Linked DNA regions of Homo sapiens. The protein of the gene in region 2 interacts with the protein of the main gene of each other region in a biochemical or structural test. Each region holds a gene or a part of one and is shown on either strand. Other genes may lie near its edges. The genes, in order: PFKFB3 and OTUD4.

Region 1 (10,234 bases), on a different chromosome or scaffold from region 2:
CTCGGAGCTCTTTTGGGGTGTGGGGGGTCCTCATGGGGAGGGAGAGGCTCAGAGCTCAGGCCCCACCACACTCCCACTATTCCCCATAGGTTTGGTTTACAGATTAGGCTCTGAGTAAGTTTTCCTTCCAAAACAAAGGACACTCCTGGGGCAGGAGGGGGCTTTAAGGCTAATGGCACCTGGCACAGATGCAGCTCGCCACCAAGATCTGATTCTGATAAGGAAATGTGGATTTATGCCGAGCCCTAAACCACGGCCATTACACACCACGACCTGCAGCCCTGAGAGGGTAGGGGAGAAGCCAGCGGTCGTGCGGCGGTGTCGGAACACACCCAACAGTAGTGCAGCCACCATGACCGCCTGCACGCTTTTCCAAAAACATTCAGGAATCTCTCCTCCCTACTCCTACGCCCATCTCCTCCTTCCCCCACGGAAGACCTCACATCACAAAACTGCTCTCATCCTCAATATTTTAACAGGCAGGAGGCCAAATGAGCAAGCAGGAAGAAAGCAGTGCAAGCAGCAGCGATGATCGGAGAGATACTTACAGACAGGCTTGCCCTAGCAAAGGCTGCGGAGGAGAAGCAGAGAGAGAAGTCAGTCAGGAGGCAGGGCGCAATCTGCAGGGACGAAGCCCTGAAAAACCCCACGCCGGCCCAGCCAGCAGCTTCAGACGTCCCTAAGAACCTGGCCACCCTGAAGGACTGTCCTCCCAACGCCAGGGGCAGCTCTGAAGCGGACAGGAGGATGCAGCCCCTGCCACTGCGTCCTCCACGACGGAGGTCTGTGCAGCTCAGGATATCAACCCCCTTCCCCAGCCTGGTCCCCCCAAGCATCAAAGCAGCGGCCTCTGAACTTCCAAATACAACTGCACATTTCCATCAGAACGGATGCCACAGGGACACCATTTCAGTTCTGCTGGCTTTTCATAAAAACCCTCAGATCTGAGACCTGCAAGGGAATATGTATGAGAGCTCTCCCAGTCCTGCTCCTATCATGTGCAAAGCTAAGGAGACTGAGGGCCTGGGAGGGGAAGGAACCTGGGCAATTAAATTGCTGCACTCATGTTAGTGTGGAGCTACCACCAAAGCCAGGCCTCCAGGCTTCCGCTAATCACAGCCACCTCACCGTGTCTACGCGTCCCCACCACATGCCCGACACTGGGCCTGATGCAGGGCATGAATCCCCTCATCTGATCTGACTTCTGCACTGCCATTATTCCCCCATTGCCTGGATGAAAAAACTGAGGCCTGGAGAGGTTAAGTGACCTGTGGAGGCTGCAGCATCTCCCAGGTCACATTCCAGACATCATGAGGTCTAAGGAAGTCTCGGAAAAGGCGGGAAGAGGTGGCAGGCTGAAAAGGATGCTCAGAGCCAGCACCAGCATCCGGCTCATCAACAAACCTGACCGGAAGCTGCACTGGGCTGATTTGTGGGGGCAGGCCTGGAGGGTGGAGGTAGGGCAGACCCTTGGGTGGTACCTGAATTTAAGCACAGAAATTCCTACATCTCACATATTTGCAAGGGTTCCAGGCTGTAAAGGAAAAGACCAGTTTTCTGAAAACAAACAGTTTTCTGAAAACAAATCTTAATGTCTGACAACCAAAATCTTCCAGGCCTGTAACCTTCAAAATTAATGAAATAAGTGAAATCGGGTTGGGGTTTTTTGCTTTTTTTTTTTGAGACGGAGTCTCCCTCTGTCACCCAGGCTGGAGTGCAGTGGCACCATCTCGGCTCACTGCAACCTCCGCCTCCTGGGTTCAAGCAATTCTCCTGCCTCAGCCTCCTGAGAAGCTGGGATTACAGGCGCCCGCCTCCACACCTGGCTAATTTCTGTATTTTTAGTAAAGACAGGGTTTCGCCATGTTGGCCAGGCTGGTCTGGAACTCTTGTCCTCAGGTGATCCGCCCACCTCGGCCTCCCAAAGCGCTGGGATTACAGGCGTGAGCCACCGCGCCTGGCCTTGTTTGTTAGGTTTTTTACTACCTGCTGGGATAACCATGTTATTTATGTGAGAAAGTAGCCACTTTCTTTGTTTTAGAAATAACCATTCACGAACGTGAACGGGTCTTGGACATCTCACTCTTCCTTCTGCACTGCCTGCTTCTGCCCTGTAAAGACCCCATCCTCAGAAAGGAGGCGAACGCAGTCACGGTTGTCACCAGCAAGGAAAGCCCCCAGGATCTTAACTTCGGAGGGTGCTTCCTATGTTCTCCCTCAACACGTGAGTGTGTGCACATGCCCCCACAACACACGTGCACAGACACCTACAACATACGCACGCGCACCCACACGCACCCACGCACGTATTCTTGCAAACACACACGCACGCAATCCCAGATCTGTGGCATCACGCCCGGCATGCGTCCCCCAGGCAGGAAGGAAAGGGGAGTGCACTGACTTGTCCAGGCAGCTGCGTGGGCACCTCCGGGGGCAGGCAGCTGGGCAGGGCGGCCGAGGTGGAGGCCACATGCTCCTCAAAGCTGTTGATGCGAGGCTTTTTGGTGGGTTCGGGGCTGGCTAGCGGGGTGACACTATTGCGTCTCATGAGCGGGTTAGGTCCCTTCTTTGCATCCTAAGCAAGACAAAGACAAAAGAGAGAAAGGCGACAGTTACAAAGAAGGGGAGGAAAATTAGCCCCAAAAAAGTTTCTCTGCTCCTGGATTTTAGAGAGGCAAAAAGACTGACCGAGGGGAGTGGCCGGGACCACGGGCCAGGGACCATGGGCTGCTGAGTGTGCGGTGACTGCCAGGCAGCAAGAATGGGGGCAATTCCCTCCCATGCCCCCTTCCTCGGATGGTACCAAAGGATTCCCCACACAGACAAACACGGTGCTTGCAAAGCAAGGAGGGAAAGAATGATGATCACAGCAGAGCGTGAGGTCGGAGAAAAGAGCTTTGCTTCCAGCCTCTCTTGAGAGCTGAGGAGGGGCATCTAGGAGGGAGAGGCTGGGCCTGAGGCTCACAGGCTGGGGAGGGGAAGGCAACTGTGCTGACTCCCTTCCGCTGACCCGAGGCAGGATCTGAAGAGCCATCTCTACTACACAAAGGGCACCCTGGCTTAGGATGGGGCACGGAGGCTGCAAAACAAGCCTGGAGACCAAAGGCGCAGAAAATGTGCAGCAGGAAGCAGGTTCTGCGGCCAGGACCAGACACAGCCCTCCCATGAGAGGGACAGCGTGATGGGGTGTGGGCCTCCAGCCTCAGAACCGGGATCTGTCTCCATCATGGCCCTGCCCCCATTCCCTGCAGGGAAGAGCTCCAGGACCGGCTCAGGCCCAATCCCATAGCGGGGGCAGTGGCTCCCTGACCAGGGCTGTTGTCATATGGCTAAAGGCAGGACAGCATCCGGTGACCCACATTCCGAAGTGGAGGGGGTGACAGGGACCAAGGCGGCCAAGGGACCCCAGCCTCTCTCAGGTCAGCCCACCAGCCAGGCAACTGCCAGCGACTGGGGCGGACACCTCATCCCTTCATGCCAAAATCCGAAGGCCAAGCTTCCTGGGACTAGACAGTCACCTGTTTCGGGAACGCCATGACAGAAAGTCACGCTCGGTCTAAGAGAAAGGTCTGACTAGTACTAGCACAGTGTTGTACTTTTGGCAGCCTGTACACGGTGAATTCAAACTCACTTTCACAACACGCGTCCACCTGAGCAGAGGCCCACTCTACTCAGTCAGAGGCAGCCTGGCCCACCTCCAAATGTCAGGCCTCCCCCCAAGGTAGACAGCAGCTGCACGGCCAGGCCTCGAGGTCTCCTGAAGCGCCTCCCCACCCGCCACCCCCCAGGCCTCTGCTCTCCACGCCTCCCGTCTCTCAACACCGTGTTCTTGGTGGTTCTGAGCCTAATCACAAGCACATGGCGGCGCTGACCTGCTGATCCTGTTTGAAACAGTAACTCTGGAAACTGAAAGCACTGGTTTTAGCTGCCAGAAAGGAAAGGCAACAAGAACTGTGCCATGCTGATGTTAAAGAGAAGAGACGCTGGGCACAACGGCTCACACCTTTATCCTAGCACTTTGGGAGACTAAGGCAGGAGGATCACTTGAGCCCAGGAGTTCAAGACCAGCCTGGGCAACACAGTGAGACCCCATTATCTAAAAAAATGAATAAATTAAAATTAGCTGGGCATGGTGGTGCGCACCTGTAGTCTCAGCTACGCGGGAGGCTGAGGCGGGAGGATCACTTGAACCCAGGAGGTTGAGGCTGCAGTGAGCCGTGACTGCGCCACCGCACTCCAGCCTGGGGAACAGACTGAGACCCTGTCTCAAATAAAAAAAAAGAGAGAATGTATCTTCCTCACTAATATTCATATCTCGAGCTCAGCAGAAATGGGAGGAAGAGGACACAGGAAGAAAGAAAATGAGAAGGCCCCAGAAGCCACAGAACAGACAGGCAGGAACAAAGAGGTGCTGAGGAAGGCAGCCAGCAGGCCCATGGCCCCAGACAGGCCAGCACCTGCAGGCAAGCGGCCCCGGGGCCTCCTGAGCGCCCATCACCCACTAGGGCTATCGTGTGATGATGGCCAGGATGAGGCTTGGGGCCTCCACTCACCTCTGACCTCTCCCGGTGTGTGCAGACGGACTCCACGTTCAGGTAGATGGATTCCACACGGCAGCCTGGAGGGCGTGGGATGGGGGCAGAGGAAGCTGCTGTTAAAGGGACAGCACCGCTTACAGCCCACGGCCACAAGAAGCTACTGTGGCCACCTTCAGGGGGACAGGGCTTGGCAGGGGTTGCTACTCACCATAAGCGACAGGCGTCAGTTTCAGGACGGTGTGAAGAGGGCATTTCAGGTAGGGCATCTCCTCTGAAATTGAAATTGTACACCCACAGTTAGAAATGAGACACGGCCAGGCGTGGTGGCTCACGCCTGTAATCCCAGCACTTTGGGAGGCCGAGGCAGGTGGATCACCTGAGGTCAGGAGTTCAAGACCAGCCTGACCAACATGGCAAAACCCCATCTCTACTAAAAATACAAAATTAGCCAGGGTGTGGTAGCACATGCGTATAATCCCAGCTACTCAGGAGGCTGAGGCAGGAGAATCGCTTGAACCTGGGAGGTGGAGGTTGCAGTGAGTGCATGCATTGCACTGCAGCCTGCGCAAGAAGAGCAAAACTTTGTCTCAAAAAAAAGAAATGAGACATGAGGGTGGGGGAGGCATGGAAAGACCTTTACGGTCCCCCCAACAAGGACCCTCGGAAGCCCTGTCGGGCAGGGGCATCTGTCCCCAGCCACAAGCTGTCCCGGGCAGCAGCTGGCCCCAGAAGAAGACTTTAGCCCAAAGAGTGCCATCAAACCAAACCAAAAGACTCGCCCTCACGGTGACTTAGAGTTGGGAAAAAGTCACTCCCAAACAATTTAGGTCTGTCTAGGGATTCAGCTGCACTGGACTGGACATGCTAAGACTTAACATTTCAATGGGATTGTCAGAGTTTTCCGGGCTGTTTGTTCCTTAGAGGGCACTGAAGAGAAGTGCAGCCCCCACCCCAAGCCAAGACCCTGGGATGTGTGGAGCCAGGGGCGGGTCTCAGGGAGCTGTTTATGAAGCAATGAAGTCCCCGGCATCAACCTGGGCTCCACAGCATTTCCCAAGGGCTTCAAGGAAGCGCTGGACAGAGAGGACCTGAAGCAGCCGGGAGCCGACACCTGTGCCCTTCTCCTAACACCCCATGGCACAGCAGCCAACACAGGGCAGGCCACGGCAGGTCTGCGGCTGACCCCCCGCCGAGTGCCAGTCCCCTCCTCCCTCCATCCCGGGGCCACGACCTGCCCGAGGTACCTGCACTCTTATCCAGGAAGTAGGCAAGCAGGCAGCGCAGGACGGCCTGGTGGCAGATGACCAGCACATTCTCCTGCCGCTCCAGCTCCATGATCACTGGCTCCAAGCGCTGGACCAGGTCCTGGTAGGACTGAGCACAGAGGGCCGGGCCCACGTGAGCTCAGGGCACTCGGGAGGGGCTCTGCCGCTGGCCACAGACTGCATCAGACCGGCCAGAGAGCCACGCAAAATCAATCATCCATCATCAGCAGTGGTTGAGAAGGAGCAGGGTTTAACGTGGACTATTGCTCAGCCACAAAAAGAGTGAAGCCCTCCCCACTCCGCTCCCACACGGGGGAACCTGGAAAACTCAATGCTGTGTGAAAGAACTGGGCGCAAAAGGCACGTGTGGCATCTGACTCCACTGACATGGAATGCCCAGAATAGGCAGATCCAGATGCAGGAAGCAGACGGGCCGGTGCCGGGGCTGGGCCGGGCAGGCGGGAGCGGCTCCTAACAGGTCTGGGTTTCTTTGTGCAGTGAGGGAAAGGCCTGGAATTTGTGGTGATGGCTGCACAGCACTGTGAGTACACTAACATGCACTAAATCATAACTTTAACGTGATGAAAGTGGTCAATTTTAGGTTATGTGTATTTTCTATCAATTTAAAAATGTAAAAAGAAGCAGGAGGGCTGTGACTTTAGAAAAAGACCAGAAAAGCTCCTGCTCCTGTGGGCTCTCTGCTGTGCTAACCAGGGCCCCGGTGTGTAAGGCTTAGTCTGAGGCCAGAGGACAGTGGGCCTGCAGGGGCCTGAGGCACGACACTGCTCAGCAGGGCACGGGCAGGGAGGACACACCAGGCCCAGGAGGATCCCATCGGCAGAGGAGGCAACAGCGTCCTCAGCCACAGCCACCCGGGCACCGTGCACGGGGAAGCACAGACGCTGCCCAGGGGATATAGAGCCACCCCTCCTGCCAGCCTGCCCACCACCCTGCCCAGTGGACCTTCACACACCACCTTCCTCCTCTCCCATATAGTTCTATGTCCCTAGGGAAACACATCTCACTTCTGCTTATGGGAAAATGCACTTCACCCCAGGCTGTTAGAAGGTTCAGTTTGGGGGGACTCAGTTCCAAGGTGGAGGGTGTAGGAGCCCCCAGAACCCACACGGAAGTGAACTCCCTGGAGGGGTGGCCCAGCCCTGCACAGCAGTGGTCATGTGTGCTGGGGACCGTCAGCCCGCCCCAGCCTGCGCTCACCTCCCCGGTGGGGTAGCGGTAATAGTACTTGTCCTGCTCCCGCAGCGCATACTCCTCAGGGTAGGTGTCCCTGATCTCCTCGTAGGTCAGCTCCTCACAGACGCCCTGCGGGGACCCAGTGGTCACTCAGGGGAACAAACCACAGGGGTGTCTAGGGCCTCTTGGGAAGCCGCCCCATGCCCGAGGGTGAGGCTGCCTGCCCGCCTCCCAGGACTCACCGCGTCGATCTCATTGAGCGCCTTCCACTGCTCGTAGGGCAGCCGCAGCGCCTCGGCCGTCTGGATGGTGCTCTTCAGCTGGCTGGTCCACACGCGCAGGTCCTTCAGGTTCTGCTCCTCCACGAACTTGCTCAGAGCACTGGCAAACTGAGAGGTGGTGGAGGGGGACCACTGATTCCAGATGCCCGCAGCTCCTCCAAGAGCCAGGGCTGGAGCAGGCAGCCCACGTAGGGCTGTGCACTACCTGGTTACACCGTGGGGGCCCCAGGCCACTGGGACAGCCACAGCCGCACACACCCTACCCAGAGACCAGGCTCAGCTCTTCCTGCCCCTTCCCTTCCTAGTGCACAACCGCGCACACATCACACACATGCACAGAGATACACACACCAGAGACACACATACAAACACATACAAAGTAACACAAAGACACACACACACAAAGCCACATGGATAGGCGTAGACACACACACACACAGAGCCATACAGAGATGCACACAGATATGCATAGAGACGTGCAGGCGCACACACAGATAACACACACAGCAAGCACACCAAGCAGCAGCAGCAGCAGCAGCAGCAGCACACAGCTCCCCACCCACCCTATAGACCCTGCAACCGCCCTACAGCCAGAACGGCCCATGCGGCAGCACACCCCGCACCTTCTTGCCCCGGCTGGACAGGCCTGAGTCGCCCCCGATGCGGCCCTGGAGGTTGTGCTCGTTCTCGCCGTGCCGGCACAGGTAGATGGTACGCGGCTGCACGTGGATGTTCATCAGGTAGTACACGATGCGGCTCTGGATGTGGTCCTGCACCCGGTTCACCAGGAACCTCCGGCCCACGTCAATCACCTTGATCAGCGACAAGTCCCTGCAGAGAGACCCCACCGAGAACCACAGCTCAGGCCACCACCCACAGCAGGATGCACCTGGCCCGTCTCCGAAGATGTGATCCCCAGAGAACAGCAAGGCGGGACCGTAGGCCCCTCCAGGGCACAGACTGAATCCTTCTAAGGGGCAGAGCATATGCGTAAGACAACTCCCACAGCTGGTGTCTGGCTGTGAGGCTGGCCTGCCTCCCAGAAAAGGGGGAGAAAAAAGAAAGAAAATGGAGAAAAAAAGAAAGGGGCCTGTGCAGTGGCTCATGCCTGTAATCCCAGCACTTTGGGAGGCCGAGGCAAGAGGATTGCTTGAGTCTAGAAGTTCAAGACCAGCCTGGGCAACATAGCAAGACCTCATCTCTACTAAAGAAAAAAAAAATTAGCTGGGCGTGGACACCCACACCTGTAGTCCCAGTTACTCATGAGGCTGAGGCGGTAGGATTACTTGAGCCCAGAAGTTTGAACCTGCAGTGAGCTATGATCATGCCACTGCACTCTAGCCTGGGAGACAAAGGGAGACCCTGTCTCTAAGCAAGCAGGCAAGCAAGTAAGTAAGTAAATAAATAAATAAATAAATGGAAAGAAAGGAAAGAAAAAAGAAAGGAACTATCGGAGGGACAGTAGCAAAATCAGGCTCAACTCTATGTTGACTTCCTGTACTTCTACACAGTGTTCAAAATATTCCCACTGAATATGATTTGTCATCAAGGATTGTTTTTAAAAGATATTTTCAAAGAGAGTTGATAAAGGTATCCAGCGGCTGTATGTGGATCACCTGAGGCCAGGAGCTCAAGACCAGCCCGGGCAACATAGCGAGACCTCATCTCTACAAAAAAAACTGTCTTAAAAAAATTTTTTTAAAGGTATCCAGGAGCAAATCCTTTGTGGGAACATCAAGAATTCAGTAAGAACCCTCATGTGGGTCTTGCAGAGACGGCCAGCCACGGGAATCACCTGTCGCATTTGTCGGGGTCGAGGGGCTGGTAGCTGGCTTCATAGCAACTGATCCTCTTCATGAAGTCGTCCATGGCTTCTGCCGAGTTGCAGTCTTTGTAATCCGGGCTGGAGATTTTAACTTCCTGCAACACCACAAAGGGGTGGCTGATAAATCACGCTGGAAGGCTTTCTGCTGAGATTAAGCAGGATTTGGGGCTTTCAAAAGGGGAGCGCACAGAAGGCTCAGTATAAAGATTATCCGGCCCAGCGTGTAAGAGAAAGGGAGAAAGATGCTGGGGGCTGAGTCACAGCCTGATGTTACATGGGGAGGATTCCCTGGGGAGATGGAGAACTGAAGCCGGAAGGACAGAGACAGGAAACCCACAGGGATTCCATAATGAACACCTCTGAATGCTCCAGCAAGTCAGGATCTGTCCCGTGCCCGAGTCACCGCCAGACAGCCTGGCGCTGAACTCAACCGAGCTCCACGTGAGGATCCGCAATGCTCCCCGTGCCGGGAGGAGGCTGCTGGTTCTAAGGTATGCTCAGGAGTTCCCAGAGATGCCTCTGGCCTTGTGTGGTTTCTCCTCCACCCCCCACTGCCTGAGGCAGCCCCAGTGTGACCAGTCCGTGGTTAACTGCTTCTCCAACTAGGGCTGTGCCGGCTCCTTTGCAGGGCTCGCTCTCCTAGGCAACAACACAGGTCTACCAACACCCACAGTGGCACAGGCCCCAGAAACCAGGTGGATTTTAGGGAAACTCAGCATTTCTGAATGCCTGGGCTCTTTTTCTCATCAACCACTGCCGTCACTGAGAGGCAGCCACTCTTCAAAGATCGAGTCAGTCGGGAGCTGTGCCTGTGTCCTGGCACAGTTTCAGCCGGGGAAGATGAGAAAGTCCTGCGGATAGAGTGTGGCGGTTGCCCAACAATGGGAATATAATTTGCTGCTGTACTGCACACTTAAAAAATAGCTAAAATGGCCGGATGCAGTGGCTCACGCCTGTAATCCCAGCACTTTGGGAGGCCAAGGCAAGCAGATCACTTGAGGTCAGGAGTTTGAGACCAGCCTGGCCAACACAGTGAAACCCCCGTCTCCTCTAAAAATACAAAAAAAATTAGCTGGGCGTGGTGGCGCACACCTGTAATCCCAGCTATTCGGGAGGCTGAGGCAGGAGAAT
Region 2 (10,234 bases):
TACTCATTAAGAGGATAAAGATGCTTTCTCTGAGAACTGGATGAAGCAACTGAGTTTATCCATCAAATATCTGCCAAATGGTTTCTGTTTCCATTTTATACAGCCATATATTAGGAAGGCAAAAAAATATATTTATTTATTTTTTGAGATGGAGTCTCACCCTGTTGCCCAGGCTGGAGTGCAGCGGCACAATCTCAGCTCACTGCAACCTCTGCATCCCAGGTTCAAGCGATTCTCCTGCCTTGGCCTCCTGAATAGCTGGGACTACAGGTGCACACCACCACGCCTGGCTAATTTTTTTGTATTTTTGGTAGAGACAGGGTTTCACCATCTTGAACTCCTGACCTCAAGTGATCCTCCCGCCTCTGCCTCCTATAGTACCGGGATTACAGGCACGAGCCATTGTGCCCAGCCCAGGAAAGCAAAAAAATAAGAATGAAGATTTATAAATATTTGTTGCTAGTAACAAAAAAGAAACAACTGTCAGAAGATGCCATCCAACCCTTCAGTCAACAAAATCCCTCAGAACTGGAACACAGCAGTGAATAAAGCATACAGAACTCTGTGTTCATGGAGCTTAATTCAAGTAGGAAGATGACAAAGTACACAGTACATTAAATGATATAAGCACTACAGAGAAAAATAAAGCAGAGAGGGGTACAGGGAAAGTGATGGAAGCTGAGAATTACAATTTTAGATAGGATAACCACTACTCTGACTTCCTGCCCCAAAAACCTTATATGGTTTCCCAATGCCTGATGCCTAGGCCCCAGGCCCAGAGGCCCTGATTCAGGTATGGAATAGGGGCCAGGGAATCTGCATTTTCACATGCACATCAAGTGATTTTGATACAGATAACCTACAGATCACACTTTGAGAAACACGGGTCTAAAGCATAAGCTCCAAACCACTGACCCTAACACTGAAGGCTCTCCCACAGTCTGGCCCCAACCTGCCTTCCAACTCCTTTCTCACCACTTCTTATCTTCACATACTCAATGCTCCACACAATTGGAACTGTTTTCTGAATCTGCTTTGCTCACAGTTTTCACTGCCTGGAATGCCCTTCAGCCCAGGCATTTCCTATTTAGAATCCATTCAGACTTCAAATACAACTCACTCTCCAAGTGTTGCTTTGTCTACCCAGCTAGAAATAACACTTTGAATGCCTACAGCATCACAGCTATATACCTCTTGTGACAAATCTCCTTTTCTAGCTTGTATTGACCTTCTTTCCTATGATAGGGAAACTTTTTTGTTATCTACATTATCTCTGCATCCCCAGGGTGACTAGGAATTCTTGGCCCATAACAAGCACTCAAATTAGTGTTAGGCAACCAAATGGATACATCAGTCATCGATCAAACACCCTTGGTTCCTACATTACATTCCCTTTACTCCTTAACTCTTCTTAGCTTTTTTCTTTGCCAATGTTATTTTTACCTTAACATTCTAAATGGCATTCCAAGATACTTGGATTTTTACAGTGAGAACGTTAGTTTTGTAAACAGAAAAATTAAGAAAAATCCTTTTAACATAAACATGACTGAAAAAGTATAGCAGCAGGAGTTGGTGAGTAAGTGCTATCCTTTTCTGTCTCAACAGTCTCTTCCCTCTTCACGAGATGATCATGGAAATAGGAACCTGCATGAAAGAACTCTGCCTTCTCAGTTGCCTAGGAAGAAAAACTCTGCAGGCCAGGTGTGGTGGCTCACACCTGTAATCCCAGCACTTTGGGAGGCTGAGGCAGGCGGATCACGAGGTCGAGAGATCGAGACCATCCTGGCCAATATGGTGAAACCCCATCTCTACTAAAAATAAAAAAATTAGCTGGACATGGTGGTGCACGCCTGTAGTCCCAGATACTCGGGAGACAAATCGCTTGAACTCGGGAGGCGGAGGCTGCAGTGAGCCGAGATCATGCCATGCACTCCAGCCTGGCAATGGAGTTAAATTCCACCTCAAAAAAAAAAAAAAAGAAATCAAACTTCACCCTGTCCAAGTTCCATACACACACCAACGTAGCATTCTGAAAATCATCACCCCAGTATTATTTCAGATTTTTATACTACATTTACATGCCATTATAGCCAAGATAAAATATCACAACTCTGCCTTAGTGAGGCAACCTCTAACATATAGCTCCAACTTAAGTGCTGCATAAAATGTGTAGGAAACGTTTATAAGGAAATAGGATACACCGTCACTGCAACTCCTCTATACACTGTAATAGTAATCTTCTATTTTAATGAATTTTAAATACATTATTTGGATATATAAAAATAGAAATATACTAGAAGACTGTGACATACCTGTGGATTTTCCAAACGCTTTAAATATTCTTCAAATGATCCTTCTATAAACTGCAAAAAATAAATCTATTAGAAATGTCATCTAACATATATGCCAAAACAGTTAACCGCTTCGCTGTGTAAACATTCACTGTGAATTACTGAGTTTGTACATAAACCTAAAATACCTCAGTATTATTTAAAAATATGTACATAATCTAATTATGAAAACATATAGCAATCATTAAAGACTATAAACATACAAAAGAATTTAAAGAAGGAAATTCTGTCAGGAAAGGTTTCCTGAAAGAAGAGTGACTCAAGATGAATGCTGGACAGGATCTGGATGGCAACAGGCAGCTGATACTCTACAGAGAGGGCCAATGTGGCGTGAGGAGGAAGAGGAACACTGTGTTGGGAAGACAAGCAATCTGGCCAGCTGGAGCAGGACAACCTGTTGTGGAACTGAGTGGGAGAAGAACCCAAAGGGGGGCCTGTTTACAGAGGGCCTTGAGCCCAGGCAGGACTTGAAGGCTAGATGAGAAAGGCCATTCAAGGCCACTTCAGGTGACATTCTGAACTGAGAAATTATATGATGAAAGCAGTGCTTTAACTTGGTAGTGACCAGTGTGTAGAAGGGAATAAAACAAAGACTGACTTACAAGCTAAGAAATAGTATAGCTTAATAATACAGATAAGAGTACTCATTGTCTCTCAAGTGATACTAGAAAGAGCGATGAGAACTAGTAAGGCGAAAAATATTTTGAAGCATCAACAAAATTTTTCTAATACAGCTTGCTTCATCGCTTCATTGTTACTTTGACATAAAAACAGTTTATTCAAGCTGTGTAATAACACAACCTTTTTTATGTTTCTTTAATAGCAATCGCACTCATTTGAGAAATCTCTAAAAGTCATTTGTTGAACCACCAAATTCAATTGCGTTTAAATTACAGTCCCAGTTGATTTAGCAGAGATATACTTAAAGACATTAAAGTATACTCCCTTGTCTATAAAATCTTTTAAGCACCCTTGGATTTTAAGATTGAGATTCTTTCATAGATTATATAATGTCAAATTGCCAAAAATATCTTAAATTTCGAAAGATATTTATAATAAAAGAGCCATATATATTAAAGAGCCCACCAATAAAGGGCTACTGTTCTGTATTAGATGATTATAGGTCTAAGGAAAAAAAAAACACAGAACCATTTAAAGTTACTAGAGACTGCAGAATTCTGACACAAGCCTGCATCCTCTCTGAGAGTCTCCTTTCTGAGCAGAAAGCGTCCACCTATGCCATGGCTGAACAATGTCAGTAACAAGGCATAATACTTTCTACAACATCTCTTTCCAATTCTGGACAACTGAAACTGCTTGAAGGTTCATAAAAGGAAAGTGAAACTTTTCCCCATGGAACTTTCAACCTCTGATCATACCTCATAAAATTATATGGACTAAGGCCAGGCACGGTGGCTCACGCCTGTAATCCCAGCACTTTGGGAGGCCGGGGCAGGCAGAGCATGAGGTCAGGAGATCGAGACCATCCTAGCTAACATGGTGAAACCCCATCTCTACTAAAAATACAAAAAATTAGCCTGGCGTGATGGTGCCAGGCACCTGTAGACCCAGCTACACTGGAGGCTGAGGCAGGAGAATGGCATGAACCCGGGAGGCGGAGCTTGCAGTGAGCCAAGATGGCGCCACTGCACTCCAGCCTGGGCGACAGAGCGAGACTCTGTCTCAAAAAAAAAAAATTATATGGACTAAAAAAAATATATGCAAAACACTTAATGCCTGGCATATAGTAAGCACCTCAACCAATGTTAGCAATGTCCATTATTATCAACACAGTTTTACCCTCTGGGGCCAATGATTAATAAGAATTAATTTAAAGACCATTCCACCTCCCCACTTCCCTTCTCTACCACACCTCTGCACTCTCTTATCTAGCCTCTGCGTTACCAGGTTTTTTTAATAAAACAAGGTTTCAAGCCTATCATTTGCAAAGTATTATATCAACATTCTCTACCAGTCAACTGGGGGAAATAACACCCAAAGTTGTCAGATTACATAATTCTAGGTCTTAAAACCAGTAAGTAATAAATCCTGTAAGACTTTGAATGTAAAATGAAAACAGGTCACTGTGGCATCTTATTTCACATACTACTGAGAAAATTATATTAAGCTGTTATACAACATTTTATTAACTATTAATCACTACTTACATAATTATAATGTTCTGACATGTGAGTTCACACTGAACCCTGAAAATTAAAAACCTATGAATGCCTTCTGATAAAATTAAGGGTTCAGCATTACTTACACTCAGCGTATTTTTTACACTGCAAGTCTGAATTTTTTTTTTTTTTTTTTTGAGACAGAGTCTCACTCTGTCACCCAGGCTGTGGTGCAGCGGCGCAACTCGGCTCACTGCAACCTCTGCCTCCTGGGTTCGAGCAATCCTCGTGCCTCAGACTCAAGAGTAGCTGGGACTCAGGCATGTGCCACCATGCCACTACTTTTAGTAGACACAGAGTTTTGCCATGTTGGCCAAGCTGGTCTTGAACTCTTCACCTCCCAAAGTACTGGGATTACAGGTGTGAGCCACCATGCCCAGACTGAATTTTTTTTCTTTTAATTTATAGGGAGTTACCCATCACAGAAACCACTATTAATCACAACACCCCCAATTCCCTGACCATGTCAGACAAAGCCCACTCTTAGTATGCAAGGGCCTTGTCCAGGTCATCTTTCCATCCCCCACAGCTCAGCGTCTTATCCATCATAGTAGCTTTCTAAATGTCCAAATAAATGCAAAACATAAAATAGCCTAGAAAACAACATAACTGAATATAACTAGATTAAGTTCAATAGAGAAGTTTTTTTAATAAGTGTTATTTTCATAACCCGCATTAAGATCCAGCCTGTGAAATTCTACTAGAACACTTCTAAAAGCCAAAATGTAAAACCAAGTCAAGACACCATTACATGTTTGAAATTACAAGTTACCGCTTCAAATTTCTCTCTGTTCTCTCGAAGATAGTGAATACAGGCCATTCTGACTTCAACATGGCGAGACTGAGAGTGCAATACCTAAAAAGAAAAGGCAACAAACACACTATTAAGCATTTAGTTAAAAGTTACAACCTAATGTCTTCTTTTACACCCAAAATAATCTGACAACCAATAGATTATCAGTCTTTCTCCATTTCCCTTTCTATAATTTCGATATCTTTACTCATTCCTACCTCTTCTTCTAACTAAGCACAGCGAAGACATGACATATACAAACAATACTACTTCTTAAGCCAAATTTGTAAAGAATTTATTAGCCTTTCTCCTTTAGGACATTTTTGTAAATTTAGGACACTCTCTTCCCTTGGCCTTCCCTCCACAATAACTTTACTCTTCACAAAGAAGAGCTAACAAAATCCATGCTACGCCACGCTCAACTTCATCCTATACATATTGAAAAAGACAAACTGGCAACTTCTGTAGGAATGTATTTTGAGGCTTTCAGCCTGTAAGAGGCCGATTTATTTTTCCCATTAATTCTGAATCCACTTAGAGGCTCTGTGTAAAAATTTAAGTCCACTATGGTTTCAGAAAAATTAAGGCACTCATTCTTTCCTTGGTGATCAAGCTTATAAGACAAGAAAGAACATCCAAGTAGGCAGCATAGGGGGTGCAAAAATGTTGTGTGGTATCATCCCAAGAGGTTTGGGGTTTGTTTTTATGCCCTAAATTGTAAAGTACCAACCTACAAAGTATGATCCAGATCCTCTCACTCTGCAGTTTACATTTTCTTCTATTAAACAACCAGTTCAACAAAAAGATAACTTACTGGCATGTGGTCTTTTACCAAAATTCTAAAGCTGTGAATTGAAACAACTATTTCTTTTTTTTTTTTTGAGACGGAGTCCTGCTCTGTCACCCAGGCTAGAGTGCAGTGGCGCAAGCTTGGCTCTCTGCAACCTTCACCTCCCAGGTTCAAGCGATCTTCCTGCCTCAGCCTCCTGAGTAGCTGGGATTACAGCCAACTACCACGGCGCTTGGCTAATTTTTGTATTTTTAGTAGAGACAGGGTTTCACCATCTTGGCCAGGCTGGTCTCAAACTCCTGACCTCGTGATCCGCCCACCTCGACCTCCCAATGTGCTGGGATTACAACAGGCATGAGCCACTGTGCCCAGCCTGAAACAACTATTTCTTATCCAATGCTTCCTTCTAGCTAGCTCCCAATTCTTTTTTCCCCCACCAGGCTGGAGTGCAGTGGTGCAATCTCAGCTCACCGCAACCTCCGCCTCACAAGTTCAAGCGATTCTCCTGCCTCAGCCTCCCGAGTAGCCGGATTACAGGAGCTGCCATGTCCGGCTAATTTTTCTTTCTTTCTTTTTTTTTTTTCCGGCTCATTTTTCTATTTTTAGTAGAGACAGGGTTTCACCATGTTGGGCAGGGTGGTCTCAAACTCCTGACCTCAGGTGATCTGCCCGCCTGGGCCTCTCAAAGTGCTGGGATTACAGACATGAGCCACCACGCCCGGCCCTAGCTCCCAATTATTTAACATGCTTAAAGGAGATTAAAATTCTTTTCTATTACTGGGTATCTCAAATAAAGATATTCCTGTACCGTAAAGGGTTATGGTTTAAAAAAAAAAAACTCAGACACACTTAAAGTAACACATTTCAAACTACCATCAAGGCCTCTTGAGAATTTATATTAATAGAAAGTATCTTTAAAAGTTACAGATCCTGGCCGGGCACTGTGGCTCACGCCTGTAATCCCAGCACTTTGGGAGGCCGAGGAGGGTGGGTCCCCTGAGGTCAGGAGTTTGAGACTAGCCTGGTCAACATGGTGAAAACCCCATCTCTACTAAAAAATACAAAAAAAAAAAAAAAATTAGCCAGGTGTGGTGGTGCGTGCCTGTAGTCCCAGCTACCTGGGAGGCTGAGGCAGGAGAATGGCTTGAAACCAGGAGGCAGAGGTTGCAGTGAGCCGAGATCGTGCCAGGGCACTCCAGCCTGAGTGACAGAGTAAGACTCTGTCTCAAAAAAAAAAAGTTACAGATCCAATTGAGTGGTTCTCCCTTTACGTTTAGCATGAGTAGAGCATTTGGGAAAAGGGAGGCTCCAGCTGTGCATTCTACAGCTCTCTTGGATCACAACCAAGGCTCATTTATACCCACAGAACCGGCACAACTGCCTGGACGCCTAGTATGTCCTATTACGCTGAGATACACTGAAAATGCACCTGTTGAGGTTAGCAATTAGTTTGTTTTCAGTGTAATAACTGGTTTTCAGTTTAACTGATTCTACCTTCACTGCTGTTCTTGGACACTATTAAACTATATTCTTATATATTCTAAGAGTATGTGACCAAAAAGGACTATCTATATATAAAAATAACCACCGTAGAATTTTTTTGCCAATTCAACAAATGACATTTAGCAACACTTCTTTCACAGAAGCTATGTTAGACACTATCATGAATCAAGGTATTACTCGTATGAATAAACCACAGTGTCATCTGATAGGGCTTTCCTCTGCCATTAGCAACGTGGAGCTAGTCTTAAAGCCATTTACCTAGCAACAGGTGGCAAACATAAGTTAGTAAAGCTTATTTTCAATCAAAAGCAATGGTAGGCATATCTACTGGTTCTTCTCTTTTAACAAAGATTTTGGCACATACAATCTATCTGAACCTGTTGCTCAGAAGCAAAACTCTTAGCAACTTCTATAAAGTGTGAGAGTGCTGGTAATTCACAAAGTCAAGCACTGCAAGAAAAGCAAGGTTAAATGACAACTGTCTAAAATGTAAATTATTGTGCAAGGTTGATAACACTTCGAAAGAATTAAAGTAGTATGACAAATATCTCTGCAAATTAATATATACATGAAAGCAAACTAGAAGGCTTTCCCATTTTTACTTGGGACAAGATAGTGATAAATACTGGGAAAGGCTGAGACACTGTTTTAGCAAGTCCTCCAAGACTGCCCTATTTTTAGCTCCATGGCTGTGGAGCTGATTCAGGTCAGGCCTCCGGCAGGCCCAAATCCGTAAGTGTAAAAAGGAAATGGCCTATCTAAATCAGATAATTTGGAGAGAAAGACCAAAATCCTAACTCGAGTCTCCTCCCCGTCTTTAAAAACTGCCACTTAGATTATTTACTTTGATTCCTTCTTAGAAATGATGAGTATTTGTGATTTTATAGGAGAAATTGTTGGCAAAAAATATAAATTATTGGTACACATTTTAAAAGGGAAGCCTGACGCTGGTATTACTTCCTTTTTCCCACACACACACACTTTGCCTTTGGCGATGATGGCTATAACTGTAGCCTACTGAATAACTGAACTTCCCCCAAAGTTCAAGGTCTTCAGCTAAGCTCATCAGACTAAAACTGAGTCACATAACTGGGAAGGGTAGTCCCTTATGCCTAACCTAAACCCCATTACAAAATACAATAAAATGTGTTACCTGATGTAACAAAGAGTTCTTAGTGTAAACTAGCTCTTGCCCCTTTTCTACTTAAAAACAGAGATCCCACTATAATAAAAGAGGCTTCTGTATAATCAAGGCCACCGAGTATCTATGGTATGCACTACGGAAATCAGGCACACCCTTCTGCTTCAATATAAACTAGGACTCAAGATAACTCAAATCCAAGTAAGCGCCAAGCTTCCCTTACCGCCATTTATTTCTACCTCCTTGCTTACCAAACTCTTGCTAGGTCTAACAGTACGTTATAAATACGGGCTGAATTCACTTCCACCTCTTCCCTAGGCTTCTGGAGGTGCTGAGGAGTCCAAGGAAGCAGGACAGACAGAGATTCAGAAAATTCACAAATGGGGCAGACTATTTACCTACTAACAATAAGGACCGGAGGCAGTGGGTGGCTGTGAACATACCCCACAGCAACACTGAAAATGAGAAACGGACAGAGCCTGGTTTGGGGAGCTTTTGGAAGAATTTTTCAATGACAATGTCCGCAACATAAAGCAACGGTTTGTGTCCGTTAAATCAATTTCTTGTTTTAAAGAAAGATTTTACGCTACCTATGGTAAATAAATGGCTTGCCTTTCAATGTTTAAAAATGAGAACAGACTGGCCTCCACATGTTAAGTAAAACATTTACTCACAAATAGAAATTTTAAAAGTTATTTAGCATTCAAAAAAGGTGAGGGAAAAGAAAACAGAAACATCATAAAAACCCCACAGGCGGGTAGGGAGGGGTGTGCAATGGGGTGTGGGGAGCAGGTCCTAGGTCAAAGGAAAGCACATGTGAATCGTCTGAAAGACACACCAGAGCAGAAACTTTTATCCAGCTACTTCGGCAGCTATTTTTCAATATAGGATGGGTTTTGGTGACTGCACACCTACAACACACAGTGTTATATAACATGGAATAAGCTCGCTCAAAAAAAAAAATTCAGAAAAATCTTCCTGAGCAACTGTGTTAGAAAATGGTTTTGAAAAGCTCCAGTTACACGTACCCTTTCTACTACCAACATCAAAACAGGCTTTTTTAAAAAAGTCAGTTCTGTTTAGTATACCTACACAGCCCAGCAGAGCATAATAAAGGGTGGAACCTACTCAAGACAAATCCTTCAAAATATTCTATATTTGTAAAAGGCTGGTTTTCTCAAACGGCAGTTTGCCCATTTGATTCAAGTGACATGGGCGAGCTTGCCTACCCTACATTCCAAAGTCCAGCAGCAAACCAAAATATGTTCCACAAGTAAAGTTTGATCCACCACTTCTAGTAAACACTTGGTTTACTGGAGTGGGGTGAGCGTGGTGCTTCTCAAACGAAGGGAAGGAAGGTGAATGCGGAACAAAAGTAAAAAATATCATGTCGCCAGGTCCCCAGCAATAAATCAACTGTACAAGCTCCGAGCAGGCCTCACAAGTTGTCCTCAACTCATTACCTCTTCATCAGGA

Evidence for each region.
Region 1: the proteins of OTUD4 (region 2) and PFKFB3 form a complex in vitro, tested with the Homo sapiens proteins (one study listed by BioGRID).

Annotation. Positions count from the first base shown.
Region 1 is NC_000010.11:6,218,533-6,228,766, reverse strand, and holds part of PFKFB3 (6-phosphofructo-2-kinase/fructose-2,6-bisphosphatase 3), read right to left. Parts: intron 10,219-10,234; exon of another isoform or gene 10,196-10,218; intron 9,249-10,195; exon of another isoform or gene 9,199-9,248; coding exon 9,074-9,198; intron 8,110-9,073; coding exon 7,902-8,109; intron 7,387-7,901; coding exon 7,240-7,386; intron 7,127-7,239; coding exon 7,022-7,126; intron 5,913-7,021; coding exon 5,783-5,912; intron 4,810-5,782; coding exon 4,747-4,809; intron 4,619-4,746; coding exon 4,554-4,618; intron 2,576-4,553; coding exon 2,402-2,575; intron 572-2,401; coding exon of another isoform or gene 549-571; intron 1-548. UniProt on the Homo sapiens protein: Catalyzes both the synthesis and degradation of fructose 2,6-bisphosphate.
Region 2 is NC_000004.12:145,169,358-145,179,591, forward strand, and holds part of OTUD4 (OTU domain-containing protein 4), read right to left. Parts: exon of another isoform or gene 10,222-10,234; intron 8,802-10,221; exon of another isoform or gene 8,771-8,801; intron 5,388-8,770; coding exon 5,304-5,387; coding exon of another isoform or gene 5,283-5,303; intron 2,364-5,282; coding exon 2,313-2,363; intron 1-2,312.